Linked DNA regions of Homo sapiens: regions 2, 3 and 4 are each linked to region 1. The links come from fine-mapping of genetic effects on gene expression. A gene starts in region 1. Each other region holds a variant in brackets. All regions are shown on one strand. Distances are from middle to middle.

Region 1 (7,527 bases):
GGCATGATGTTGTGCGCCTGTAGTGCCAGCTACTCCAGAGGCTGAGGTGGGAGGTTGGCTTGAGCCCGGGAGATGGAGGTTGCGGTGAGCCCAGATCGCACCATTGCACTCCAGCCTGGGTGACAGAGCCAGACTCTGTCTCAAAAAAAAAAAAAAAAAAAAAAGCAGTTGATTTTAAAATGGTGTCACCCTGTCTCTCCTAGGCTCCTGTTTTCCTAATAGCATGAACAGCCCCCCCGTCAGCTCCTACCCCTTGGTCTCTGACCTGTTCCTCCTCCGAGGTGACCTCTATCCTGAATTTTGAAAACATATTAGTATTGCCTGTTTCTGGACTTTGTGCAGATGAAGTCATTGGTATGTATTCATTTGCATCTAGTGTTTATACATTCATAAAATAGATCACTGTGTAGCCATTAAAAATAATGAGAGAGTGCTATATAATTTCATATGAAACATATCAGGACACATTGCTAAGTAAAAGCAAAGAGAAAGCAGACACCGAGTGTAGACTGTTATATGCATGAATGTCTCTGAACAGTATATGAGGCACCTTCAGGTCTCTTTTTTATTTTTTTTTTTTTTGAGACAATCTTTCTCTGTTGCCCAGGCTGGAGTGCAGTGGCGCAATCTGGGCTCACTGCAACCTCCACCTGTCGGGTTCAGGCAATTCTCCTGGCTCAGCCTCCCTAGTAGCTGGGATCACAGGTTCCCGCCACCATGCCCAGCTAAGTTTTTTTTTTTTTTTTTTTTGAGATGGAGTCTCACTCTGTCACCCAGGCTGGAGTGCAGTGGTGCGGTCTCGGCTCACTGCAAGCTCCGCCTCCCGGGTTCATGCCATTCTCCTGCCTCAGCCTCCCGAGTAGCTGGGACTACAGGCGCCCACCACCACGCCTGGCTAATTTTTTGTATTTTTAGTAGAGATGGGGTTTCACCGTGTTAGCCAGGATGATCTCGATCTCCTGACCTTGTGATCTGCCTGCCTCGGCCTCCCAAAATGCTGGGATTACAGGTGTGAGCCACCGTGCCTGGCCCCAAAGATGATTGTCTTATAAAAGCCTATGTAACCCTTTTCATTTTTTCTTTAAAAAATGTCTTCCTTTACCTCCTGGAACACATCCATACTTATTCCCATTGTAATGCCCGTTCCTGAATAAACATCATTGTTTTTTTAGAGAGGGAGAGAGAGTCCATTGGTGAGAGAGTCTCACCAATCTCCTGTCCCCAGGGCACTTCCACCCCTGGGTATTTGTACTGATCAACCAGGTTACGCTTTCAGCATTTGCAAACTCAGGATGGAGATTTTAGACCCTCTTCAACCTCCAGGTTTCCTCTTTGCAAAGGCCAGCAGCAGAAGCAAAAGAGATGGAGCCCGGGTTAGCATTTATTTTTCTATTTACCAGTCATTTGGAATTTGGACATTTTCTGTCCTGTGGTTGTGGTGAGGGTGTGGGTTTTGTGTTGTTTTATATATTCTTTGTTATTTTTTATTCTAGTTTTTGTTTTTGTTTTGGAAGGTATTTTAGAGAAATAAGATTTCTGTGGTTACCATGACCTGCTGTTACAGATTACATGGTACCCTCTCTTCATATGTTGAAGTCCTAGCCACCCCGCCGAACCTCAGAATGTGACTGTATTTGGAGATAGGGTCTTTACAGAGGAAATCAAGTTAAAATGAAGTCATTAGGGCAGGCCCTAATCCGATATGATCCTGTGTTCTTAGAAGAGGAAATGTGGACTCAGGTGTGTATGGAGGGAAGATGTCTTGCAAGCCCAAGGAGAAGATGGCCATCTGAGCCCACGTCCTGGAACAGAGACTTCCCTCACAGCCTCAGAAAGAACCAGCCCTGCTGACGTCTTGATCTCAGACCTCCAGCCTCCAGAACTGGGAGACGATTCAGTCAGCATCTACACAACACAGGGTTGAACTGTGCGGGTCCACTTCTATGCAGATTATTTTCTTTTTTCTTTTTTGAGACAGAGTCTCGCCCGGTTGCTCAGGCTGAAGTGTAGTGGTGTGATCTTGGCTTACTGCAGCTTCCACCTCCCAGGTGCAAGTGATTCTCCTGCCTCAGCTTCCCAAGTAGCTGGGACTATGGGTACTCGCCACCACACCTGGCTAATTTTTGTATTTTTAGTAGAGATGGGGTTTCACCATGTTGGTCAGGCTGGTCTTGAACTCCTGACCCCAAGTGATCTGCCTGCCTTGGCCTCCCAGATTGCTGGGATTACAGGTGTGAGCCACCGTGCCCGGCCCTATATAACTCTTTGTGCAAGTTTTTACCCCTAAAAGATATCTGCCATCTCAGCCATGGAACAGACACTGTAAGAACATGAAGGCTCAAGGGCAGGGCTGGCTACATAATTTGTGGGACCCATTACAAAATGAACATGGAGAAAAAACTAGAAAAAAGTGTAGTACAAGGTACTATAATAGATTTTTCCTTTGAAAACAGTTTAATACTTATAAAATGTAATAGAGGGAAATAGTGACACGTGAGTAACAAAATGGGCGTATCAATTGGTCTATGCTATTTTTGGTGTTATAATTTTACCTAATATAATAAGCAGCAACACTTTGTTAGTGAGACGGGCTTTCACCATGTTGGCCAGGCTGGTCTGGAACTCCTGACCTCAGGTGATCCGCCTGCCTCAGCCTTCCAAAGTGCTGGGATTACAGGTGTGAGCCTCTGCGCCCGGCTGTGATGTCTTGATTGATCATAGGATTTTTCTGGCTATTCTAGCTACTTCCAATTCGCTTCAGCCAATTTAGTTGAAGTTTTATCACTTGTGACTTCAGAGTCCTGGTTAATATCCTGTTGCCCTCAGGACATGCAGGATGGAGGAAGGCACCAGGGAGCCGAGGGAAGTGAGCAGAGAGGCAGTCACTTCAGGGCCACCAGCATAGCCCCCGTCACTGTCCACAGACACAGGCCCTTCCCCTTCTCATGGTTGAGCAGGCTCCACCTCACTTCCGTGTATGACTTCATAGACCGTTAGGTTCCGTGGTACCCTGGAGTCCACAGCTGCTGAATCTGAAGGGCCATCAGAAGACTGGCTTCTCCATGATGGTTTATGGACTAAGGCAAAGATGAGCAGAGCCATGGCCCTCTTCTTTGTTCTCTGCTGGATCCAAGGTATATTGCTGTGGCAGCTGGAGAGAAACATGGGCCTCACTTCAAGCCTAAGTGGGGCAGAGGAGGGCGTTCCCTCCCACAGTGTGGGGAACACAGATGCTTTACCTACTCTACCTTCTATACCTCCCCAAATCTGCCATTCAGGGTTTATTACTTGGGGGAAGGGAGTAACTGAAAACATTTTCCTAACTTTGAAGCTTTCTCAAAATTCAGAGCTCTATAGGAGGGTGGCATACATGCGTATTTTAACTTTTCACTGTAAGCATTTCCAAACATATGCAAAAGTAGAAAGATTAGTATAAAGAACCACCATATGCTAACTAACCCTCCTGATTTTATCTATATATATGCACTATTTAAAAAATAACAGGGTTAGGCCGGGTACAGTGGCTCACTCTTGTAACTCCAGCACTTTAGGAGGCCAAGGCAGGAGGATTCCTTGAGCTCAGGAGTTTGTGACAGGCCTAGGCAACATCATGAGAGCCTGTCTGTATAAAAAATTTTAAAATTAGCCATGCATGGTGATGCGTGCGTGTGGTCCCAGCTACTAGGGAGGCTGAGGTGGGATGATCACTTGAGCCCAAAAAGTCGAGGCTGCAGTAAGCCGTGATCACACCACTGCACTCAAGCTTGGGCAACAGAGTGGGATCCTGTCTCAAAAAAAAAAAATTAGTAATAACTTTATAGGATATAATATATAATAAAATTCACCCTTTATTTTATTTTTCTATTTATTGTTATTATTTTTGAGATAGGTTCTCCCTCTGTCACCCAGAGCTGGAGTGCGGTGGCATAATCACAGCTAATTGCAGCCTCAACATTCCAGGCCCAAGGATCCTCCCTTCAGCCTTCCAGGTAGCTGGGACCACAGGCATGTACCACCACACCCAGCTAATTTTTTAAATTTCTGTAGAAATAGGGATCTCACTATGTTGCCCAGGCTGGTCTCAAACTCCTGGGCTCAAGTGATCCTCCTACCTTGGCCTCCCAAAGTGCTGGAATTACAGGCATGAACCACTATGTCTGGCCAAATTTACCCTTTACAAAGTATATAATTCAGTGGTTTTTAGTATACTCATAGAGTTGTGAAGCATCACTATCTAATTTTATTTAATTTTTAATTTTTTAATTTTTTGAGATGGAGTGTCGCTCTCTCACCCAGGCTGGAGTGCAGTGGCGCTATCTTGGCTCACTGCAACATCTGCTTCCCAGGTTCAAGTGATTATCCTGCCTCAGCCTCCCAAGTTGCTGGGATTACAGGCGTGTGCCACCACGCCTGGCTAATTTACTAAACTAATAAATTACTAAATTAGTAAGTTACTAGTAAATTAGTAATTACTAAAATATAATTTTTAGTAGAGATGGGATTTCATCATGTTGGCCAGGCTGGTCATGAACTCCTGACCTCAATGGATCCTCCTGCCTCAGCTTCCTGAGTAGCTGGGACCACAGGTGCACACCACCACGCCCAGGTAATTAATTTTTATTTTTTGTAGAGTCGGGGGTCTCCCTATGTTTCCCAGGCTGGCCTCGAACTCCTGACCTCAAGTGATCCTCCCACCTCAGCCTCCCCGAGTGCTGGGATTAAAGACGTGAGCCACGGCACCTGGCCTGAATTTTCCTCAAATTCAAAAAATCCTGATGAAGGTTTGGCTAAAATCTTTGGTGAGTTACCCCACTCCCTGTGGAACCTCAGGCTGGATTTGAAGAGTTGCGTGCATGGTCCTCATTGTCTCCCAGGTAACCTGTTCCCGCTGCTGTGAAGGGAAGGCAGGTGCTCTTCCTTGAGGCTAGAATCTGTCTACGTGTCACAGTCTCAGGAAATTAAGCAAAACAGATGATAAACACCTCAAAAGGACCCTACTGAGCATCAGTGGAGCAGAGCAGGGCCATGTGGGACTGCGGCGTCAGATGCCACCTCACACTAGCTGTGACACACCTGCCTCGCCAGTTTCTGCTCTGAGGCCCCAAAGCCGAGCTGAACCTCCTCCAGGGGTTCTCAGCCCTAACTGAGCATGAAAACCCCTGGGGCAATCCTCTTTTTAACAATTGAGACATTCCACACACACCCCACATCAGATTTTGGGGTGTGGGGATAGACCTTCACATTTGTAGTTTTCTAACCCTCCAGGGGACACTAGGCTGAGACTCATTGGTCTCCACTCTGAACCTTCCACTGAACATGTGAGAAAAACTAAGGCCCAGGGAAGTCTTTAGCAGAGAGCTGAGACGGAGAAAAGGGTTCTGAACCACAGCTGTCTGCTGAAGGAAGCTGTCCAAAGGCCAGTGAAGTCTCTCCTGAGGGTGCCTGGGCTGTGCATCAGGAGTGAAGGTTGAGGGTCACCTTAGGTGTGAGAAGGAGCAACTGGGAGAGTGGCGCTGATGCTTCCCCCCGGGTTAGGAGGCATTTGGATCACAGAGCGATGCCTGTTCATTCCTGCTTGCAAGGGAGCAGATCTCTCGACACCCGATGGGCCTCTATTCCGTTCCGGCAGCTGTCCGTGTCAGGAGCGCTGGGCTTGCTCCTCCCCACGGGAGCCATCACAGAGGCCTCGGGCAGTCTGCATAGACAACTGCCTGGCAGGTGACCAGGAGGGGATGCATGAGCAGATGCAGGTAGCACTCGCAGTCCCCCTAGCTGTGCCCTCAGCACCTGCTGTCTAGGAGGCAGAAGCCTTGTTCTCGGCCTTGCAGGTGACCCCAGTGTCTCTGAATTCGGCCCCATATGTGTAGGAGGGGAGTGATTGCATCTGAAGATGGGAGTCTGGTTGGGGGTTTGGGAAGCTCCCATCACCCCTCAAGAGTCCACTGACCAGCCCAGCTCACACCAGGTGGGCCTTGGCACTGGAGGCCACGGCTCAACTCTGCAGTTCCCTCTGGGCAGCATTTCCAGGGACTCGTAGGTCAGCATGGTCATCAAGGACAGGTGGTGAGAGCAGCTCCTCATTGTCCTGGTGACCCCGATGGTTCATTTTCTGGTGTCTCTGTGGTGAGCTCCTGTTACATCAAGCGAGTGGAAACCACCGAGGACCAACAGCCCTGGAAATGCACTGAGAATGCAGGATGAGTGGGCTTTGTGAGGACTGTTTTCTGTGACTTAGCAAGGAAAGCCTGGAAGGGAAAGTAAAACTGCTTCTTCCCAGGGAAGCCAGAAACCTGAGAACTTAAAAGGGAAGGAGAACTTAATATATTTCAAAAATGTAACCCTTGTGAATTAGCAACAGCTTTATAAACAAAGAGATTTCCGAGCTTATAGAATCTATTCTGCTTTGTTTCTGCCCCCATGGCTCCTACCCCTGTTTTTGTGGGTACAATTTTCATATAGAACATTTTTACACAAGCTTCAAAACTCTCTGAGGACAGCTTTCCCCTTTGTGTCTGTCGGGTCCCAGGCAGTCACATCCCAGGAAGTGCTGGGGTTGGGCTCCTTGCTCCACATCCTTCTTCAGTGGCACGAAGCGTGGGGTGGAGTGTGTGAGTCATGTGTGATCTTGGTGTGGGCTATGGCTGGTCTGCAGCACCCCTTCAATGACTGCTTCAAGGGCTTTTCATGATGCTTGTAGCTCATGAGCTAGTGTTTCCTAGATGCTGTTTCCAGGTGTCTTGCATGTCACACACTGGCCTACCAGGGCTGGAGTGAGATCATGAGCGCCAGATTGTTGGTGAAGGAAGTTGACAGAGACATCGAATGTCGGTGAACAGGAGTGACCTTGGGTCTCAATAAATACTGTGGTCAACTGAATCCAGAACCCACCCTTACCAGCAGGGCCCACTTCTTCCCCAGCAGGCCGAGCTCTTCCCCTCCTGTCTTCCCTGGCCCTTGCTTTGTAGCTCTGTGTGGCTGTGTCATGTCTGGTTGTATCTGTATATACTTCTGCCTCTCCCGCTATCTAGATGGCTCGGGGAGGCACACCACACACCAGGTCACCTTCCTCTCTGAACCCCCAGCACCTCATACTGTTTCTGTGCAGAGATAAGGCTGGGTGAAAGCTTGTGTGAATGATCTGAAGTCTTCTACTCTAGGCCAGTCTCCAGGAGCATTATGATCTTTAGGAGGGTGGGCTTGGTTCCTCTGTACAATAATGGGTCATAAAACTGAGTGGTCAAGATCATCCCGGTGAGGGCAGTCCGTGTGTTGCCATAGTTGCTGTACCGGTTAAGAATGCACCTGGCTGCAATTTCCTGAAAACCTGACGTATAGTGGCTTAAACAAAGAGTGGTTTATTTTCCTTCTGTCATAGCAATCTGGGGGAGGCCACTGTGGCTTTGGCGCAGGAGGTCGGGAAAGGCCCGCTTCTCTGATATCATTGGGGGCCTCCCCAGTGCTTGTGTGGCAGAATGACAAGAGGAAGAAGAAGGAGAATTATGGCACTGAGTATCATGAGATTTGGGG
Region 2 (7,527 bases), 570 kb before region 1:
CCAGGAGATGGAGGATCTCAGAGCCATCATCAGCATCCCTGATATTCCTAGGGCTATAGCCCAAGGCCCTTTGCCCCATCAACCGTTCCCTGCATACCACACGGGAAGCGGTCCAGGCTTGTATTTTACCTGCTATACTTCATAAGGTGAAACTTTTGTAGAGGAGCAACTACTACATGCTACGCAGTAAGTCCCAGGGATTCCAGCGTTCCTTCAACCAGTGCTTTCTGAAAGTTCCCACTGTGCTTGGCTCTGCTGTAGGTATTGGGGAAACAATGTAGGTCAAACTCAGCCCTGCCATTCTCCCTGCACAGGTCACAGATGTTAACAACTGACGTAAGATTCAGCTATCAGGACTAATGCTGTGAAGATGGTCAGGGGCTCTACCCTTGTCTAGTTTCTGGAGGAAGTGATGTGAGCTGAGCTGGGCTAAATGAGCAGGACCAGGAATTAGCTGGGTGGCAGCCTAGCATGGGCAAGTGACGCTGGTGAAACTGGCTTCACAGTGGCCATAAGCAATTTTTTAAATGCTATTTTGGTCCTGTTTAAAATGGTTTCCACTGCTCACATGATCAAGCTAGAACCTCTACCAGGCTGTCCTTGTCTTCTAGGAGCAACACCCCCACCTGCCTCCCCAGATAATAATTATTTCATTTCTCCTGATAGAGAACAAGTTGCCTGAGGGAAGAGGCTGCAGACAAACAGCAAGGTCTAGGCCTGACAGCCATCACTTGGTCATCTCCTCCCTGGATCCAGGGCACATGTCTGTCTCTTTCACTGCCCAGCACTGTGCCTGGTGCACAGAAGGCTCTCAGTGACTTTCTGCTAAATGAACAAATAAGTGACAGAAGCAGGGGCTTGACATTTCACTACTTGGGAAAGCTTAATGCTTGTTAACTTCAGGAGACATGGCTGTGCCTTTCCTCCTCAAATCACCTAGAAAGTATCCACAAGGGCCAGACGCAGTGGCTCACACCTGAAATCCCTAGCACTTTGGGAGGTCGAGGTGGGTGGATCACTTGAGGTCAGGAGTTCAAGACCAGCCTGGCCAACATGGTGAAACCCTGTATCCCCTAAAAATGCAAAAAAATTAGCCAGGACTGGTGGCGGGCACCTGTAATCCCAGCTACTAGGGAAGCTGAGACAAGAGAATCACTTGAACACAGGAGGCAGAGGTTGTAGTGAGCCAAGAACATGCCACATCCCTCCAGCCCAGGCAACAGAGCGACTCCAAAAAAAAAAAAAAAAAAAAAAAGAAATTATCCACAGAGCTCAGGTCCTGTTTTGAGTCCAAGGCTCCACTTAAAGACAAACACTATTCTCTTGTTTTGTTCTGAATCCAAGTCTGGCCACTATTCCTTACCACATGGTGCCTTCCCTGAATGGTTCCTTGCTCTTCCAACAAAGGCAGTTTGTATTGTACAGCCTTCTATGCCCAAAAATGTTGAGGCAGCTGAGCCCCAGACTCTTGGTCCTCACTTGGAGATTCAATCTGCCTTGTTCAGTTAAAGACTCATTAGACTTAGGTCACCACTGTTGTGGCCCGCCAGTTTGACTAGAAAACAGAGTTTTGACTTCTCTGCCCTGCTATCTTACACAAGCACCAACTGTGCCACTGTCAAAAGGCTGTTCGAGCCAAAGTGCACACACTCAGACACTCCACATGCTAACATAACAGTAACTGCTGCCGCTGAATGCCAACTATTAAGTGCTCTACCTACAATGTCTGATTTAATTCTTTTTTTTTTTTTTTTTTTTTGAGATGGAGTCTCGCTCTGTCGCCCAGGCTGGAGTGCAGTGGCGCAATCTTGGCTCACTGCAAGCTCTGCCTCCCGGGTTCATGCCATTCTCCTGCCTCAGCCTCCCCAGCAGCTGGGACTACAGGCGCATGCCGCCACGCCCGGCTAATTTTTGTATTTTTAGTAGAGACGGTGTTTCACTGAGTTAGCCAGGATGGTCTCGATCTCCTGACCTTGTGATCCGCCCACCTCGGCCTCCCAAATTGTTGGTATTACAGGAGTGAGCCACGGCGCCCGGCCTGATTTAATTCTTGACGCTTGTGGAAGGTAGGTACTGTTAGTCCCATTTTACAGATGAAACAGTTAAGGCTTAAAGCGGTTAAGGGATTTGCCCAAGGTTACACAGTCTTAAAGCTAGGAGGGGAGGGAGCTGGGATGTGAATCCAAGTCCAGGTGACATTGAAGTCCTTGGTTCAGAAGCCTGTAATGCAAGCAAGAAAATCTAGCTTCAGCCCCATCTTCCTACCAAGGACATTTTAACCCAGAATGTTGTGGTGAGAAGTGGGGACCTTCCATAGGAAATCCTCCAAAGGCCCTAAAGATTGTAGTGAGAAGTAGGGACCTCCCACAGGAGATCCTCCAGAGGCCCTGCAAACAGCCATGCGTGGGGAAACTACAGGCGCTCTCTGGCTATTGCCTCAGGGACGAGGCTGGTTACCAGCTCTCCAAGAGAACTCCAGGCCCCATTGACTGTTCCCTTCCCACATGACACACACATGCAGGTTCATTCCAACCTTACAGCAATCCCCTCAGGTAAAGCGCCCTCACTTTACAGAAGAGGACACTGAGACTCAAAGGGATGACGTCAGGTGCCCAAGGTACTAGTCAGAAAGTGGCCCTGGGGCTTCTGCAACAACCACTATGTCACACAGTCCGAGCTCAATCCAACTCTGCAAGAGTCCATAAGCAAAGGGGCGGCGACGTGAGGTGGAAACAGTAGCCTGAAACGTGGGTGTGCACGTCGGATCCCATCCCACCGTCCACTCGCCTGGAAACCCCCAGTTTCCCCATATGCCCAGCTTCGTCCCCTGCAATTAGTGAGGGCTCACATGGGTCCGCCCCATCCGTGTGGTCGGAAACGGCCGGGAACCTGGTTCTAGTTCTGCCCTCCGCGGGAGACCTGCGCCAGGGACACCCTTCTGGCCTAACCCAGCCAGGCCTGGTCTACCTGGCGGCGGCGGCGGCGGCAGCCGGTCCTCCTGCGCTGAGTTAGGGCTCGCGGGGCGGGAGGTCAAGGGCAGCGGGCGCCTGAGCACTGGCACCAGTCACCGCATCCAGCCGGGGAACTACAGCAGCGGCGAAGTCACTGCCGCTCGGTGCGCACTCCAGCGAGAAGCGGGCGCGTCCTGTGACGTCACAGGCAACCACCCCTAGCAGGGCACCAATCCCGGAGGGCGGGCCCAGTGCGGGGCGGGCGGCGCCGGGGGCTCTTCAGGCTCAGGGCATAGGCAGGCGGCGGCCGCGTTTTCTGGAGACGGTCGCTCTCGGAGGGACCCTGCAATTGCCCGAGACCGAGAGTG[G/A]GCGCTGCCTGAAAGTTTGTCCCTGGGCGCTTCGCTGGCCTCATCCGGTCTCGGCCTTGTTCTGGGCCTGGCGCCTTTCCCATTGTTGGGGAAAGTGGTCTAGGAGACCAAGGCAGCGTGCTGGGTGGGAGAGAATGATTTGTGGCTTCTGATTCTGACATATGTCGTTAAGGAGGGGAGGGATGAGTGACCCTGTTTTACTTATGGAGAACCTGGGGCCAGAGCTGTTTTCCCAGGGTGACACAGGCGGTGAGTAGTGGAGCTGGCATTCCTGACCCCAAAGCTCAGCGTTTCCCAGCCACTCTCCGCAGCCAGGCCTTCACCTGCACTGCTGGGCGCAGGTGGGGAAGTGGGGAAACGGTGCTCCATCCCCTGCAGAGGGCAGGCGTGCGGGGAGCGGTGGCTGAACTCCACAGACAGCTACTGCTCAGCTCTTCAGCTGCCGGCTTTGAAGAGTGTGAGGGGCTCTGGGCAAGAGGCCCCCACATTACTCAAGGACCAGATCATCAAGAGCTTTACTTGTCCCACAAAGGAGTCTGGACCTCGTTTAAGTGCACAGGAGACCGCTGGAAGGTCCTCAGTGGCGTGCCATGGCCCGACTTCTATTTGAGAAGTTTTTCTCTGGCCACCCGTCTAAGGAAAGGTATCTGGGTGGGTGGTGCGGGTGAGAACAATGGTGGTGCGGTGCTTGGCGGAGAAGGTGAGTGTCCAGAGATGTTCAGGAAGAAGAACTGACAGCTCTGGATGACAGGAGGTGGAAGTGAGAAGGAAGCAGGTACAAGGCCGGCTCCTGGGTCTCTAGCCCGGTAGGTGCAGGGCCGTTCATGGAGACAGGGCTTCTGGAGGAGCAGCGGGTCTGGGGAGATGATAGTGAGCTCCAATTTGCATGGGACATCCAAAGGGCATTGAACGGTGGGCAGTTGGAGACGTGGGTCTGGAGCTTGGGACTTCAGCCTAGCTTGCAGAAAGTCACCACTGATATAGAAATGGAACCTATGGCCGGGTGCGGTGGCTCACACCTGTAATCCCAGCACTTTGGGAGGCCAAGGTGGGCGAATCAGATCAGGAGATCGAGACCATCCCGGCCAACATTATGAAACGCCGTCTCCACTAAATATACAAAAAATTAGCCGGGCGTGTTGGCGGGCGCCTGTAGTCCCAGCTATTCGGGAGGCTGAGGCAGGAGAATGGCCTGAACCCGGGAGGCAGAGCTTGCAGTGAGCCCAGATCACACCACTGGGGAACAGAGCGAGACTCTGTCTCAAAAAAAAAAAAAAAAAAAAAAAGAAATGGAGCCTATGGGGGTGGCTGTGATCAGGGGGATGTGCTGAGGAGAACCTGGCGTAAGTGTTTCATTAAGCCATAGCTCCCAAAGACTTTCTGAAAAGCTAAGTTACAGCCTGAAAGAAAAGATCTTCAGAGGCTATATTTGATAAAAGACTTGTATCCAGAATATAGAAAGAGCACTTAAAATCAATAGATAAAATCAAACAATTCAATTTTTTAAATGGACAAAATATTTAAACAGACACTTCACCAAAGAAGATATACAGATAGAAAATTGAAAGACATGAAAAGATGCTCAACATCATTAATAATTAAGGATATGCAAATTACAAGCACAGTGTGACACCGTCTCACACCTACTAGAATGGACAAAGAAGACTGATTATACCAAGTATTCGAAAGAATGTGGAGGACCTGGGATTCTTGTACACTGCTTATGGGATTATAAAATAGTATCACTACAATTGAAAATCATTTGGCAGTGTATGAAGAGAGTTAAACATACTCCTACCATATGACCTAGCCATTTCAATCCTAACTATTGACAGTATTGAGTTGCACCTTAGCCCTTTGCTCCTAGAAATAGTGAAGATTAAGGAATCCCTCCACTCCTTTGTTCCAGAAAACACCCTACTGGAAAGAACCAGTGACTTTCCATATAGCTTGGATAAGAATCCTGAATGTCCCCTCATGACCAGACCATACACAGACCCTCTAAATTCCCATTCTTGGCATCATAAATGATTAGCTGGACTGCTTGTTCCCACAGATCAATAAGAACAAAATGCCTGTAACCAAACCTTGGTTCAGATTCTCTCCTTCTCCAAGCCCCTGAGCTTTGGCCCACCCGCAGCTTGTGCCAACCCACCGCCCTCCTGAGGGTCCCTCCTGAGAACAGGCTATCTGCATGGTAAGACCTGCTCGATCATGACACTCTTGCTCAGCTCACTTTCCCATAACAGTTCTTTCTAGCCACGTTTACGCCTCCCTATACAAGGTCAGCCCTTTGCCTAACCTCTGAGACACTTGAGGATCACATCGTCAGACTGTCTCCTTATTGTAATAGTCCCCCCCCCAACCCCCACAACAATCCTTTTGAATAAATTCTCTTTTTATGGAATCCAGATTTATATTTTTGTTTGATAGTAATTACATGAGAAATAAGAAAAATATGCTCATGCAAAGATGTATTCAGAAGTGTTCACAGCAGGCTTTTTGTAAAATCCCCAAACTGGAAACCACCCAATTTTCCATTAACAGGTGAATGTGTAAACACTCTGTGTTTAGCCACACTAGGGAATACTACTTAGCAAGAAAAAGGGATGAATTGTTGATACAACATGGATATATATCAAGATAATTATTTGGAGTGAAAAAGGGTAGATTAAAAATGAGTACATATTGGATGATTTCATTTATATGGAGTATCCTTGGGGGATATCTTCAAAGACCCCTGGCGGATGCCTGAAACTGCAGATAGTACCAAACCCTACATCTGCCACATCTTTTCCTATACATTGATGCCAGTGAACAAATTTAATCCAGATGAAGTTAATCTGGTGCTACACGGTTGCTGTCAATCAGAATACGTTTCTGTTGACATCTTCCACTCACAAATCTAATGCTTTTTCTACCCTAAGCGCTTCTCACACACTGTAGCCATAAGTTTTGCACTTTGAGGTGTGACAGTAAAACTGGCACAAATTTCTTTTCCCTTCTTCACAATTTCATGGATAGAAGATTCATTCTTTCTGTAGATCTTAGCAACCTCATTATGTGATTTTTTTTTCCTGGAAGCTTGAGAGGGGCACATGTTAGCAAGAAGGAGCACAGCATCCCTGCCAGGTTATCTGTCCTACGTGTACCCTGGGCTAGACACACCCTCCTCTGGCTTGCTGTGGTCTGGCCTCACCCTGCGATGCAGGGGCTCCATCCACAGCCCTCTGTCCAGGAGCACCCAGGCTGTGCTTACATTTTTTCAGGGATAGGGAGCTCACTGCTGTGTGGGCAGCTGGGCCCAGTATTTTATGGGGAGGGGGAGAATGGAAGGCAACACTGTCTTCAAGTGTCATCACTGTCCTGGGCGCATGGAGCAGCCCAGGTAACAACGTGCCCTCGGTATTCCCTAATGCTGGGTAGTCCTTCCTGTCAGAATGTGCTTCCCATGATAACCTGAAGCCTGTGACTCCTAGCTGGTAGAAATGTCTTCAGCTTGCCCCTGGAGCTGTGCAGAACACATCTTGTCTTGCATTTTCTAATATGTTTGAATAAAACCAGCATGTCATTCCTCTGCCACCTCTCCCCTAGTTCCCTCACCTTTCTTAGACCTCACATCATTCTGATAATCTCCTTGGGGTAGATTCAATCACCGTTGGTCATCATCAGCTGTGCCTCCTCCTGCTGGAGCATGGGGTGTTCACATCTAGCTGAACTAAGGCCTGGCCATCAGACTTGTTTTGGCCGATGCTATGTGGGTAGGAGCATCATAGACCCCTTACAAGGCTTCTGTAAAAGCCGGCCTGTGTTTGCCATGTCTCTTTTCCCTCTGCTACTAGATAGAATGCTCTAAATAAAAACCACTCTGTCAGCTTGTGTTCCAGAGTAAAAACGCCATAGATGGAGCCACAGCCAACTCACATTGGATGTGGAATATGAGGGAGATGACACTGAGATTTGGGAGTCTTTTGTTATTGCAGCAAAACTCAGCCCATCCTGACTGATATGACTCATTTGCCAAAGTCTCTTAGAAAGTGGGATATCTCACCTTAAGAGGATGTGAATGGTCTGGAGTAGGATAGCATGCCCAATTCCTTGTCCAGAGATTATGGAAACATTTATGAATTCAGCATCTCTTACAGAAGCACATCATAATTACCTTGAGTGCAACCCATTCCTTATGTACATGAACAGCTGGCAGAAAA
Region 3 (7,527 bases), 790 kb before region 1:
TTGCCCGGCCCAGCTGGCCTGCTGGCGATGCACTGCTGGCTCCCTGAGCTCCCCTTCCCTCCAACCTGGCCTTGCCTTTGCGACTCTGTCCAGCCTTTGCAGTCTTGCAACAGCTCACTGCCCCCTTGTCATAAAGCAAGTCTGGGCCTGCGTGCCGGACACTATACCTTGACTGAGACATGGTGACATGAAACAAACTCAGACATGAGAGGGAGAAAGATACTTCAGGAGGGCAACCATTCGGTCAGGAAATAACATACCTCTGCTTCTGCACAGACCAAAAGGAGAAAGGGCCCTTCCAGGGTTTTTTGGGGGATGGCGAGTACAACTTAGAGGCTTCAGGAATTGACTAAGCTGAAGTGGGCCTCAAAGGAACAGTAGGATTCGAGGCAAAGATGGCCCTGTGCAGGCAGAGGAGGGCTGATGACAGACCCTGAGGGCGGTTCCAGAAACAGAAGCCACAGACCCTGAGGGCGGTTCCAGAAACAGAGGCCAGTACAGGTGCAAGGGAGTGGGGACAACCTGGGGGGCAGAGTTGTGGGAACAGGCTGGGGGTGCCTGGGGGAGGCAGGTGATAGAATGTGGCCACACTGGTGTGCTGGAATGTACTAGGTAGCAGGAAAATGAGCTCTCTCTGGGAGAAAGGATTACAGGGTATCCCTACCTTTCCTTTTTCCTTTTTTAAGATTATTTCTCTACAATGTGTGTACTCATACAAGGAGAATACAATGAGAGTTGGTTTAAAACATTTTTTTTTTTTGAGACGGAGTCTCGCTCTGTTGCCCAGGCTGTAGTGCAGTGGCGCAATCTCCGCTCACTGCAAGCTCTGCCTCCCGGGCTCACGCCGTTGTCCTGCCTCAGCCTCTGGAATAGCTGGGACTACAGGCGCCCGCCACCGTGCCCGGAGAATTTTTTGTATTTTCAGTGGAGACGGGGTTTCACCGTGTTAGCCAGGATGGCCTCGATCTCCTGACCTTGTGATCCGCCCGCCTCGGCCTCCCAAAGTGCTGGGATTACAGGCGTGAGCCACCGCGCCCGGCTAAAACTTTTTTTTAACAAGATACTGCCAACGGTAATTGGCTGAACCTAACTGGGTTTGGGGTGGGTGTGAGGCATGGGAGCGGGACTTGGCCATGAAAAGCAGCCGAGACCCAGGCTGGGCAAGGTGGTTCACGCCTGTAATCCCAGCATTCTGGGAGGCTGTGGCTCAGGAGTTTGAGACCAGCCTGGGCAACATAGTGAGACCCCGACTCCACAGAAAACAAAACCAAAAGGTTATCCAGCATGGTCACCTGGATTCCCAGCTACTTGGGAGGCTGAGGCAGGCATATCACTTGAGCCTGGGAGGTTGAGGCTGTAGTGAGCTGTAACTGTGCCACTGCACTCCAGCCGTGGGCAACAGAGCAAAAGCTGGTCTCAAAAAAAAAAAAAAAAAAAAAGGAAGAAGCTGAGGCCCCTCTTTGAGAGGGCAATCTAATGATGAGAGGTGGCAGGGGATGCCGAAGAAAACATCCAAGGGTTATCAGGGCCGTCACTGAGGACAGCTGGGGAAGGCACCCTGGGCTGTCTGCGAGGGAGAATGTGTGGGACTGGGAGGGGCGAAAGGGGGCCTGTCCCTCTCAGACCTTTCACTCCCCACTGCTGATGGCGCAGCTCACTGGCCTGCTCCACCCATGGGCTCTCGGGGGAGTCTCTTTGTCTGGAGGAGGCCCGGCTGCAGAACTTCCCCTCCTAGAAGGAGTCGTGGGGAGGGTCTGAGATCTGAGGAATGCCCTGGAGGAACATCAGGGAGGAAAAATCTGTCAGTGGACTTACCCCAGGCAGTGGAGAGTTACTGGTTTCACAACTTGTTTCTTATGCTAATTCCCATAATTGAATCTGCAGGGGGCAGGGAGGGGGGAGGGGAATCCCAGAAAAACTATTCCGAGTGTTTGGGTGGATAGTGAGTAGGAAATGGCAGTCCTAGAGAAAAACCCTGTTAACCACATTTTATAAGTTGTTTTTCCCAAAGGGAAAAACCTAAACCTGCCACTGCCTGGAGGCTGGGTGGCTGGGTGCATGTCTTCCTTGCATTTGAGGTGCTTCCTATAAGGAAGACGTTGACCCAATTTAAGGAGATTGGTGGCTGTGCAGATGCCCTCCCTTGGGACATCTCTGGGAGCTTGGCTGAAGCTGGGTTCCCAGTAGGGATTTTGAAAAGAAGCCTTCATTATTGGCATAGGAAACACCCACACTTCCATCTCCTCCCTGCATTTCCCCAGGACTCTTGGTCTCAGAGCTGCAAAGAGGTAAGAGAGAGTCTGATCCTGTCCAGACAACAAGCAAGGTGTCCCCACCCTCCCACCAGACCCCTCTCTCTGTGTGAAGGTCAGAGGAACAAAACCTCAGTGGAAACTGGGAACTCTGTAGCCAGGAGCAGGCAGACCCTGAGTCTCCCCATCTAAACCGCCAGCGGCTGTGGACACCCGATTCGCCCAGCTCAGCTGGCTTGCTGGTGATGCACTGCTGGCGGCTCCCTGAGCTCCCTTCCCTCCAACGTGGCAGGGGCAGGCACGGGAGTGGTGCAGGGCAGGCAGGGGTGGGCGAGTGAGGGGGCCCTTCCCAGCAAGACAAGAAGGGCCAGGTGTGAGAGCTGCGCTTCCTGCTTCCTTCGCAGTGTGACCAATTCCTGAACTTAGCAAGCCTGCTCCTGTCCTGGCTGGCACTACAGAGGCACGGTTCATCTTCCCTTCCACGAGGCAGGAGAGAGAGGCTGAGCCCAGGCTGCACTCCCTGCCTTACCTGCTTCCTCTCCCTTTGGGAGCACAAGGTGGCCCTTCTATACGCCAGAGGGAGGCCCTTCCAGGTCTCTTAGAACTGCTTGGTGCGGTGGGGATGTCATTGTGGCCTCAGGGTTAGCCCTCCTTGGGTGCTGGGGGGCTACACTTGTCCAGGCCTCAGAACCTTGTCTGAAGACGGGACCCAGCTCCTGCCCCATGGCACGTTAGTCAGGCTGGGAAGCCCTAATGGGAAATGGGACCCCGGAAACCTCAGTCAACATCATGGGGAAAGGCAGAGTCTGAGGGCATGCCCGGACCCAATACTGACAAGAAAAGCCCAGCCCATCCCTGCGGCCGCTGCCAGCAAGGGCCGAGCTCCCGTTTTCTGGGTCTTTCCCCAGAGTCTGGTGGGCTGGCTCTTCTGAGAAGTTCCATGCAGGAATGCCTCACTCCTGGCTCTACAGCCTTCAAGGGGGCCGTGCCCTCCCCCTGGGGAAGGAATGACAAGGCTGAGTGACAGCAGACAGCAGACTGGGACTGTCACCAGAGGAAGGGAGGTCAGCATCTCCATGTTCTGGTCCAGCTAGTTCTGACCCCAGGCTCCCCCAGCCAAGACTCCCAAGTCAACTAGGAGCCATTAGCAGCGCTTTTGTCATAGACGAAAGGGAAAAAGGGTGGACATTTCCCAGGAACTTCATCCTTTAGAAAATTCCCCTCTAGCCAATGCCAAGGGAGCGGGCTGTGGCCTGGGCTATTTACGCTGAAGGGGGGCAGGAAAGGAGGACGGAGAGGCTCTCCCAGGAAGCCACTCGCTCTGGCCAGAACATATAACCTTTCTCCCCCATCAGGTCATGACCAAGAATCCAGTCTTAACCCCGGGCAAGTCTTCCCAAATCCAGCTCTCTCCTGGAGGCTGCCAGACCGGGTGGGGAAGGCAGACCTGTTTCTGGCAGGAGGACCCTGC[G/A]GGAGCAGGTCCAGCTAGGCTCTGGGGCAGCTACTGTGTGTGTGTTGGGGGGAGAACCAAGGCTGACCCAGGAACACCTGCTGGGAAGGACGAAGATGGACCCAAAGGGCACGGCTCTCCCAGCCAGGCTGCTGAGGCCCAGGGGCTCACCCCCAGCCGTCCCTGCCTCTCACTCAGGAAGCTGGCCCTGATGTCTGCTGGTGCTGGGATTCTGGCCTGGGGTACCAGGAGCCAGGGGGGGTCCTCTTGCTTTCTCCTTTCCATGCTCACAGCCCTAGCCTGGCTGGGCTGCTCTCAGCCCAATCTCGAGAGCCTAGAGGTCCAGCCCAGCCCAGGAGAAGCATTCTGCCTTGGTATCATCATTGCCACACACGAGTCCTCTCAGGACAGAGGTGTAAGCACACGGACTGAAGATCGACTCTAGAGCTAACGGAGTCTGGGAAAGGCTGAAGCTGTGCTGGTCTACCCTGGGCCCTTTCAGACCCGAGGCTGGGGCTGGGCCACAATCCTTTTTTTCCCTTTTTTGTGCAATTTAAACCTATATAGTACCACTTCACGGCATCCTGATCCAGTAGCGCACACAGAGAGGGCCTGGGACCCCGCCTTCAGCAGACATGGAAGCTGCGGCATGGGGAGGGTTCCTGATGTGCACGACCCTGTGTCCAGGAAGGGCAGGTCTGGCCCAAGAGCAGATGTCTGGGCTCTCAGCCTTCAGCAGGACAAGCTCCCCGGGTGTGCGTGGATGGTGGTGGGGTCTCTAAAGAGGATTCACACTGTGGACATCCCCCTTGGGAAACAGCAAGGGTCCACGGGCCTCCTATTGGAAGGATAGGGCGAGGCTGAGGCTGCTCCCCCAGGGTGGAGGAGGAAAGCCCTTTGCAGGCTGGGCCCCCGGGGCACGGTCTAGGTATCCACACAGGTTGGGCACAACAGCGATGAATCATGAGTAATCTGAGGTAGGGCTACTCAGGCCCCAGGCCAAGAGCCTCAGTCTGGGGAGGGAGACAGAGCTTAGGTGACTGGTGTGTCCACAGGACACCAGGCGAAAGGGGATGCATTTTCCTAGCTACGTGCCTTCTGAGCCCCAGCAGTGTGGCACTGGCCACCAGGACGAGGCTGCCATGTCTTCCCTGCCCCATGAGCAAACCGCACAACCTCTTCCCCTTGGCCAGGCAGCTTCTGCTCCAAGGTTGCACCTCTGAGCCTTGGCTTTGGCAGACACTAAAGAAGGAAGCAGAGGGCGGTATCGAAAGCTCTGTTCCCAAAGGCAAGCTGACTTGGGAAGTGACTCTGACCAGGACAGGTCGCCGGTCATAAGCCCTAGTGAGGAAGAAATGAAGACATATAACCGACCACTAGGAAATGAGGCGGGTGACCTAAGACCTCTTCCTAACCTAGGGTCCCAGAAGACACAGGGCCAAGAGGCCAGAGAGCAGACGTCTTAGCCAGAGAGCAGACGTCACTGGTGGGGCCTGCCAGGCAAGACACCCAATTCTGTCAAAGTGCCTGCTAGGGCAAGGGGTGGGGGTGACCCAAACACGGTCCCTAAACACGGAGCAGGGATGAGGCCCATTTAGGGTTAATGGGAGACAGGCTGGCAGCAGCTGGACAGGCAGGACTTCCGGCTCTGCTGCAGTGAATGGCCATTGAATGGAAGTTTGCTTTTGGGCCCTGCTGGGTAGAGAGGTGGGTGTCTCTTTCCAGGCTGCAGAGGACTCGGGGCCCAGCACGTGCCCACACCCTCCACGCCCTCAGAACAGGAGCTCTCACCTGCACCTCTGGCTTCCTGGAGAGTGAGTTCAGAGATCCGAGACCCTTCACAGCGGGGATCTCTTAAGTTCTATCTCTAGCTGGGGCCTGGGGCCTGGGCCCTGAGCAGCCCTGGCTCCTGCTCGTGGTACTGAGGACAGGGAGGGAATGTGGAGGCCATGGCGCATGGGGCTGGGGAGGGAAAGAGATGGAAGGCTGAGAGCTCCAGATTCCTGCAGACCTGCCGTGGGGAGGTTATCTCAGAGCGTCTCCCCATTCCTCCATCCGCCGGCTGGTGGCAGGAGCCAAGGCACTGGAGGCAAATCCTTGCTGGAGGGCGGAGGGCTCCCACCCAGTCCACCTTCCTCTCTGGCTTCCTGCTGGTGGGGGTCAGGGAGATGACAGGCAGGGATTGGCGGGGTCTTCCTGCTGCTCCAGCTGGGACCAGAGACCTTGACACCAGGGAGATGTGGACCAGAAAACCTAGCTCTGCAAGCTACCCAGAGAGGGACAAGATTCTCGGTGCCTATGTGTAAGAGTTCACGCCAGTACACGTATACATCAGTGCATATGTGTCAGTGTGCGTGTGAGCGTGTAGAGTGGAGGGGGTCACTGACACCAGCCAGGGCGTTGCATAACCACCTGACAGAGCAATGGTTTCCCCATGGCTTCCCCTTCTTGTCTCGCTTTTTCACTTACTGAATTGTCTCCGCGGTGTTGGCACGTCTGGCCAGAGCCTGGGACTGCCCTCCTCATCCTTCCCACCAACACCAGAGCACAAGGCCACTGCCCGTGACTGAACCACAGGGATGCTGCACACGTCCAGGGATCCTGTCCTTTCCCTTCCTTTGTAAGAGTGTCCCAGCCTCCTGTCCCCTACACTCAGACCAAACTGTTCCATGGTGGTGACTCCAGCCCTGACTCGAGGGGTGAACGTGTATCCCAGGCTGGCCATTCACTGTATGCTAGCTTGCCAATGTGACTGGCTTAGAGACGGGCACCTGACCCAAACCAAGCCAATGAGACGCCATTCTGGTTACGATTCGAGGGCCGAAGCTCTTTCTTGTCCAGGAAGAGTTAAAGGATGAGGAGACCCAGGTAGAGTGTTAGGTTAGAAGCTGAGTCACTTGCCTAGGGCTGCTGAGGGAAGGCTGTTGAGCCTGGAGGAGGGGAGAGCCTGCCTGGGAAGGCGCCAAGGGCCAGAGCCCGGAGGAGGAGGGTGTGACACTGAGGTTTTTTGACACTGTTTAGCCCTTGGGTCCCTCTAAGTCTGATGAACTGTCCCAGGGCTTTCCAGGATTTGTGTTTGTGTTTCCGTCACTAAAAACTCCTGGCAAAGACAGGGAAGAAGGGACAGAAAACGTGATGCGCAGAGAGCACTTGAGAAGGCCATGGTCGGCCTGGGAGCTGTTCCTGCAGACTGAGGATGGCGTGTAAGGGACCTTCCCCACTGTGCTTGGCCGTCTTCGGTGCACAGCTGGGAGCCTCAAACACTGCAGCCTTGAACTTCTGGGCTCAAGCCATCCTCCCGAGTAGCTAGGACCATAGGCGTATGCCACCGTGTCGTGTTAACACCAAACCTGGCTCATTTTTAAAAAAAAACCTTTTGGCCGGGCGCGGTGGCTCACGCCTGTAATCCCAGCACTTTGGGAGGCAGAGGCGGGCGGATCACGAGGTCAGGAGATCGAGACCATCCTGGTTAACATGGTGAAACCCCATCTCTACTAAAAATACAAAAAAATTAGCCAGGCGTGGTGGTGGGCGCCTGTAGTTCCAGCTACTCGGGAGGTTGAGGCAGGAGAATGGCGTGAATCCAGGAGGCGGAGCTTGTAGTGAGCCAAGATCATGCCACTGCACTCCAGCCTGGGCAACACAGCGAGACTCTATCTCAAACAACAACAACAACAACAACAACAAACCGTTTGCAGAAATAAGGTCTCGCTATGTTGTGCAGGGTGGTCTATGAACACCTAGCTTCAGATGATCCTCCTGCCTCAACCTCTGAAAGTGCTGAAATTACAGGCTTGAGCCACTGTATCTAGACAGGGTGAGGCA
Region 4 (7,527 bases), 170 kb after region 1:
TATGACTGTGCCTGTATAAGAAACTCATGAACTTTGGTTCAAACTTACTTTGAAAAGATTGCCCATTTCTCTCTCATCCTTAAAATCCGGGTGGCTGGGGCAGAACAGGTTTCTCACATCACACTTAGAACCAAAGTGTCACCAGGTCATCACCAAATATAATTATTTTAGAATAAGGGTTTAATTATTTTTAACTTTGTCATACATTTAAAAACAAAGAATATATAAATTAGGGGAAAAAAGAAGTAAAAACTTACTGTTATTGGTACATCTTTTGTTCCTGAATTTAATAAATGAAGGTTTAAAACTTTTGGTAGATCTGTTAAAATTGAGGAAAAGAAATATTTCTTAAAAAGGTGCTTTTTAGCCAAGTTAGAATCTTTACCTTATAAGATATCAAATTGAAGCTATCAATTTGTGAAATACAATGACAATAAGATTAATAAAAAGAAACATTAGGTGGTAATTGCTTTACTCATAAGGACATTGTGTATTATAAGAACTGTTCCCTCTTAAACCAGATTTTTGAAAACCCCAAAATATATACTTTTTTTTTTTTTTTTTAAATGAGACAGAATCTTGCTCTGTCACCCAGGCTGGAGTACAGTGGGGCATTCTTGGCTCACTGCAACCTCAGCCTCCTGGGTTCAAGTGATCCTCCTACCTCAGCCTCCTGACTAGCTGGGATTACAGGCATGTACCACCATGCCCAGCAGACTTTTGTATTATTTTTTTAGTAGAGATGGGGTCTCGTCATGTTGGCCAGGCTAGTCTTGAACTCCTGGCCTCAAGTGCCCTGCCTGCCTCCACCTCCCAAAATGCTGGGATTATAGGCATGAGCCATCATGCCCAGCCCCCCAAATATTATTTTTTTGTGAAGTCAGACATTACTAATCTTTTAGCTTTCCAGCAAAACATAATGAAGCAAATTAATAATTTACAATGTAAAAATATACTAACAGCAAATCTAATTTTTAAACATATGGTCTTCAATCTTAACTACATATTATTATATATAGTCCATATACATCCCAAATTACAAGTGCTCTTAGTTTTTCCTTAGCAAAAATCTTTACTTAGTTGTTTTTAATTTCAGAATTTGAGTTTTCTGAACAGCTGCAACAAACTTTCAACATTTTGTCAAAATGTAATTTAATAACTCATATCTAAACAAAATCCAGAAGTAAAAATCAAGATTCAGCGTAACTGAACTGATGAGCAACTGGATTAAGAAACTAGAAAACTATTTTCTGCCTCAATCTTCCATTTAGATGACTTAAATTATCCCATGGCCTTGTTTTCCAACCTGTTAAGCAATGCCACCCACCCCTCAGCGGAATGGGGTATAAACCTGTAAAGGCGCTGAGTCTGAAAAGGAGATTTGTACAAGATCATGCAACCAACTGAGAAATAATGTTTAAAGCTGAATTACATAGTAGAGCCATTCAGCACTGAATACAGGGGTTAAAAAAAAAAAAAACTCCATAAAGACTCTTTTAAAAGATTTTTTTACCTTGTGTTCTTAGTGTACCAAAATCTAACATTTCAGTTGAGGAATAAATTCCAGGAGCTTGGAAAAAAGAAAAGTCAACAATTATTTTTCACTTTGCCAGAGTAAGCTATACTGAAAACAAAACAACTTTCGATTTCATCAGTTTTCCACTAACCTGTTGTAACTTCAACCTCAACAGGAAGAATGATAAACTCTGTGCTGTCTGAAGCATTAGTCTTTATTCTTATGAAGGCTGTGTGATTATCTGCTTCTCTAGATGAAAAACTGGCTCTCATCACTCCCTTGGTTTCATAAGGAGGAATTTCCTGACAAGTTAACAGACCATAATGTAGCACAGCTTTTGTAATGTAGCAAAACCACCATTTTTTATTGAACTGGATGACACTGACTGAAAGATGAGTATTCTATATACCTATTAATAAAAAAAATGCATTGCTAATTAAACCAATATGTAACACACACTCCATTTCTGGAGAACTTTAAAATGTGAAAAATGTGCTGTTTAGAATTGATGAAATACGATATGTAAGGTAGGCAAAGCAAAAGAAGTCAAATGATCTGAAAACAAATTGTCAGTTACAAAATCACCATTAAAAGGTAAAACTAATCTACAAAATCAGTTATTTTTTAATATGCTAGTTAGTGGTGTTTGGGTATATAACTCAGTCTTGAAATTTAACCAACAGAAATGTCACCATCAGAGGTAAATACTTTTCTAGAAGTCCACAAGAACCTTCATAAATGATAACCAGCAGGGCTTACACTGCTCTTTCATGGAAAACTTAACAATGCAAAGCTTCTCAAGTAAATCCACAGTTTACCAACTGCATTCATGTAAGACAGCATACATTTTCAGTCCCGTAATGAGAGAACATTTATATACTAAAAGGAAGACTTACTGGAAAAAAAATTTTGAGGAGTAATCTCTTTCCTGGTTTCAGAACAATATGGCTCCCTGGGACTGCCTGAATTTCTTCTCTGCACAAACCTTTCAGCATATTTTAGGAGATTCTTGTGTTCTACAGCTTAGTGGCCTTCACTTATCCCTACTCTCTTTTTTAGTCCCAAAGTAGAAAACAGGTGATTGGGACCCTCCTAAGATTGGAGGGATGGACCATCCACTCCCCAGCTCTAGGGAGTTGACTTGGTCTCTGGGGTTTTCACCTATACACCGAAATAGGCTGGAGGTGAGGTCACAGCCCATTGGCTTTTTTCTCAGTCTAGGTTTGTAGGAATAAGAACTACCATATCTTTTTTTGCAGCCACTAGGACTATAAAAACATGCTATTCTCTGTTATCATTATCACTCTTGACTATTTAAAAATCTGAATTCTCTTAGGTTTATTTATTAGATACCAATTATGTTTCACAGGAAGTTCTTAGTTCTGTCTAGAATAATATATACAGATATAATAGTCTGAATTTAATCCTCTGAAGGATTGTTTTATAGATGATTTTTCCCTCAAACACCACAATTTCAAGGTGAAACATTTTTGTGAAAGGATATAAATGAACTGTCCATTGCATATTTCTTTTTGCTGGTTGTGTTTCTATATTCTGGGAATTAACCAAATAACTGGCTGATAAATTTGTTTCTAGATGTTCATATTAACATTCTAAAAACATAATCTCCACATCTCTTCTGTGGTCAAGACTGGTCAGAAGACAGAATCAAGAGGCTGTGTGTGTGTAACAGCAGTTAATAAAGAAACTCTGATCCTCAAACCTTACTCCTGGTTGTAAAATTTGTGTTCCTCCATTACAGATGAGCAGTGATCTGAGTGAGCTGGATATGGAACTGAATTGACCACAATTGCCTTCTCCCTCTTGAATTAAAGCATGGTAAACATTTTTAAAACTCACAAATGGCAAGAATCTTTATAAATAAGGTTCTCTTACATATTCTTTAATTTGGTTAATATTGTTAAATATTCAACAATATTGAAGGTGAACACAGATCACCTTCAAGAATTAAAATTTTTCTAAGTTATCGCAGGCACTTGACTAGGTTCTCTCTGCAAATGCCATCTCCTTTACCAATGGTGAATCTGAACATTCAATTACTTACCTTCAAAAACAAAACAAAAACATAATGAATGCTTCCTACATTTTTTTAATCATTTACATTTTTTTATGTGTAAAGCACATCATAAATTATCAGACTCAGAGACAACTTTACCCAT[A/T]TAATTCGGAGGAAGAATAGCTGAAGTTACTTTCTTTCCATGTAGTGGGGTAGAACTCCCACCAATTTTACTCACTGCCCTTTCCAAAAATTACTACTTATATTCTTTCCTCCTCCAATTTTCATATATACTTGACATAAATTAACATTAAGACAACGATTAAAGAGAAGTCATCCATATTTGTTAAGCCTATTAAGGAGTTAAATATTTTCTAATTTAAGAATAATCGGTTTCATGGGAGCACACACAAGAGAAAACTAGGTTACAACTCACCCACAGTTTTCTGGTACCTCCTTGTTGACCCGTTGGGAGTTCTAGGTGAAGGTCTCCTCCACTAGAGTACATTTCTACAACCTGGGGCAAAAGAGCACATGATGGCTACGTTCAAAGTCATATTCTCAAAGCAGGTGACTTGCTATTACACAGAAATAATTCTGACATCCTAACTGTTTATCACAAAACATTTAAAGATATAAACGTAGGATATGTATAATATCACTAAATTCAGTGCTCTGTATGTGTAAGCAATAGTTGTATTTTTAATTAAAATAAGGTAACTTTGAAAATTTAACTTAGAAACAGTGTAAGTACCATAGTTGTTCCAGAGACCAGATTTTAGAAAGTAACAGGATACTTATTTTTCTTTTTTCCAAAGGGAATCACTTACAAAAATTACCAAGTTTTGGAAACATAAATTTTGTATTTCTTACAGTAACACAAAGTGCTTCTTTATCCATACATTTATAACAAGAGCCAGCAGTGGATCAAATAACTACCATAATTGTGAGATGGGGAAGAGTAAAAATATTTGAGATATATACAAAATAACTCTAATGGAACATGAAAATATGTGGTTTCTACTGGTAGCAAAAATATTTCTGTGGCTTATGCCTAAGCTTACTTTTTTTAAACAGCTTTATTGAGTTATTTATGTAAAATAAATAATACATATTTAAAGTATACAACCTGATGAATCCTGACCTATGTGTTTGGGCATAAAACCATCACTGTAATTAAGATATTAAATATATCCATTATCCCCAAAAGCTTCCTCATGCCTTGTGCAATCCATCCATCCTTCTCTGTCCCTTCCTATTTCTAGGCAACCACTGATCTGCTCTCTATCACCTCAGACTAGCTCATATTTTCTAGAGTTTTATCTAAATGGAATAATACAACATATACTCTTGTGTCTGGCTTCTTTTGCTCAATGCAATTATTTTGAGGTCTACCACTTTGTTTATGCATTAATAGTTCACTTCTATTTGATGACTATACCGCAGTTTTTCAATCCACACATTAATGGGACATTTGAGTTGTTTCCAATGTCTGGCCATTAAAGAGAAAGCTGCTGTGGATACTGAGTACAAGTCTTGGTGTGGTCATCTGCTTTCCTTTCTTTTGGGTAAATATATATACACAAAATGGGTCACAAGGCAGGAGACCTTCCTTTAAAGGTAAGCTAACCCTAATTCTTAAAAAGAAAAAATATATTTAATTCAATTAAATTTGGGGTGAAGTATGAGAATGGGTGGAAACGTTCACTTGTTTCATCACAAGAAGTCCTCCAGGAGTGAATAAAAAAGGATAAAGCAAGAAAAATGGCAATTCTTAAGCTTAAACTTTTTTTTTTTTTTTTTTTTTTTTTTTTTTTTTTTTGAGACGGAGTCTCGCCCTGTCGCTCAGGCTGGAGTGCAATGGTGTGATCTCGGCTCACTGCAACCTCTGCCTCCTGGGTTCAAGTGATTCTCCTGCCTCAGCCTCCTGAGTAGCTGGGATTACAGGCACATGCCTCCACGCCCAGCTAATTTTTGTATTTTTCGCAGAGATGGGGTTTCACCATGTTGGTCAGGCTGGTCTTGAACTCCTGACCTCGTCATCCACCCATCTCGGCCTCCCAAAGTGCTGGGATTACAGGCATGAGCCACTGCGCCTGGACCCTTAAAGGTTTTTTTTGTTTGTTTGTTTTTTTGGCAGGGGCCGGGGAGTTGCTGCTGTAAAAGTAATGCATTTACCAAAGACTGATAAGCTATAGATTTTCTTTGTATATTATTACTTGCCTGCTGATTTGTTACAGTGCTCATCTATAGTGCTTATTGTGTTAATAATAATAGCACCTTAAATGATAGGATGACTATAGAACTTTTTCTGGAAAACCAGAAAACATCACACATTATTTCATCAATCCTTCCAAGTATCAAGCAAACAAGCATAACAATGCTTGAAAACAGAAGATTAGACCAGACTCAGTGGCTCATGCCTGTAATCCCGGCACTTTGGGAGGCCAAGGTAGCGGGGATCACTTGAGCCCAGGAGTTGTAGGCCAGCCTAGGCAACATAGTGAGAGTCTGTCTCTACAAAAAAATAAAAAACATTAGCCAGGTGTGGTGGCGTGCACCTGTAGTCCCAACTACTCAGGAGACTGAGGTAAAAGGATTGGTTGAGCCTGGGAGGTCAAGACTGCAGTAAGCCAAGATGGCACCACTGCACTCCAGCCTGGTGTCTGGAAAACCAACCAACCAACCAACCAACCAACCAACCAACCAACCAACCAACCAAAAAAACCCCCAGAAGATTAAAAAGTCGCCTACTGATAACAGAGAAAATGAATAAAGAAATAGAGACAGAAAAAGTCTAAATTACAAAGTCAAACAAATAATTACACTAAAACTAGGAACCTGACACATTCTTTATTTTTAGTCCAGTGCTATTTGTTCTAATTTAGTATAGTTTAGGAAAAAAAGGAAGCCAAACATTATGTACAGAATATATTATGTGTAAACAAATTCCCACAATAAATGTTTCTGTGCCCACATACACGCATGCACAAGAGAAAGGTCTAGAATGATACATACAAGGTGGCAAAAGTGGTGTCCACGAGGAAGGGCTTGGACTGCAACTATGCTGTCTATGCAATAGCTATCAGCTACATGTGGTTATTTACATTTAAATTAGTTGAAATAACATTTTGGCCACCCTAGCTGAATTAAAGAGCTCAACAGTCACACGTAGCTAGCGGCTACTGTTTTGGACAAAGCAGGAAAGGAACTATTCCATCATCACAGAAAGTTCTGCTGGACAGCTGGACTGGGAAGTAGGAAGTTCAAAGGGACGTTTTTGCTTCATTCATGTTTGAATTGTTAACATTTTTTTCCTGAGGAGAACATACTCATGTGTTTATGTTGTATAATCAACAAACGATATACATTTTCTCGCTTTACAATCTTTTCTTACTGTAATATTGACAAGACTAGTGACACACAGTAACACTGGACTACAAGGGTAAGAGTGTCTTCCCAGGTAAACAATCTATATTTGGTTCTAAGAGAGTAACTTTGGTGTTCCATTTGCTCTCTTGTGTAAATCTTGAATTAAAATGTTTTAACTGGAAAAAGACTAGATGAATTGAATTCGAAGTGATCACTGTGCTGGGCTTGGTAACTCCAAAGGCTGAAGAGAAAAGGTACAGACTGTAAGGCAACTCTGGCAATTGTAGACTGACCAACATCTGCTGAGTCCTGCAAGCTCCATCCTTGTGGTCTGGCCACCACAATGAGGCAGCACCCTTGGGGCACCCTGTTAACAGCCCTTCTACGGCACAGTGGGGCAACTCATGCAGTCGGGTCTAACGGAGTAAGAGGCCAGGCACAGTGGCACATGCCTGTCATCTCGGCACTTTGGGAAGCTAAGGCAGGAGGATTGCTTGAGGCCAGGAGTTCAAGGCTGCAGTGAACCATGACCGTGCCACTGCACTCCAGTTTGAGTGACAGAGTGAGACCCTGTCTTTTGTAAAAACAGGAAAGAAAGCAGCAAGAATTTCTGAAGTTTCTA

Which allele goes with the higher level. Alleles are on the strand shown, and positions count from the first base shown. SD is a standard deviation of normalised expression in the study named. Not every link is listed here.
With allele G in place of A in region 2, the expression in caudate of the gene that starts at base 3,013 in region 1 is lower (large effect, 1.1 SD a copy in GTEx).

The links.
Region 2: its variant is fine-mapped to the expression of C2orf92 in caudate (GTEx, PIP 0.96). The same link has a PIP of 0.9 or more in pancreas.
Region 3: its variant is fine-mapped to the expression of C2orf92 in whole blood (TOPMed, PIP above 0.99).
Region 4: its variant is fine-mapped to the expression of C2orf92 in whole blood (TOPMed, PIP above 0.99).

The regions. Positions count from the first base shown.
Region 1 is chr2:97,666,701-97,674,227 of GRCh38, forward strand. It overlaps C2orf92 (chromosome 2 open reading frame 92), which reads left to right and starts at 3,013. Exons shown (of 8, transcript NM_001351368.2): 1 at 3,013-3,134. The coding sequence starts at 3,089.
Region 2 is chr2:97,091,734-97,099,260 of GRCh38, forward strand. FAHD2B (fumarylacetoacetate hydrolase domain containing 2B) reads right to left here and starts at 3,149. Exons shown (of 9, transcript NM_001320848.2): 1 at 2,968-3,149; 2 at 130-255. The variant G/A (reference allele first, on the strand shown) is at 3,320.
Region 3 is chr2:96,879,853-96,887,379 of GRCh38, forward strand. All of the region lies in intron 14 of FAM178B (family with sequence similarity 178 member B), which reads right to left. Among named protein-coding and RNA genes, the nearest start is that of SEMA4C, 14 kb to the left of the region's middle. RefSeq lists an enhancer at 2,190-2,745. The variant G/A (reference allele first, on the strand shown) is at 3,724.
Region 4 is chr2:97,833,108-97,840,634 of GRCh38, forward strand. It overlaps TMEM131 (transmembrane protein 131), which reads right to left. Exons shown (of 41, transcript NM_015348.2): 8 at 3,970-4,050; 9 at 1,668-1,818; 10 at 1,514-1,570; 11 at 258-319. Among named protein-coding and RNA genes, the nearest start is that of ZAP70, 120 kb to the left of the region's middle. The variant A/T (reference allele first, on the strand shown) is at 3,697.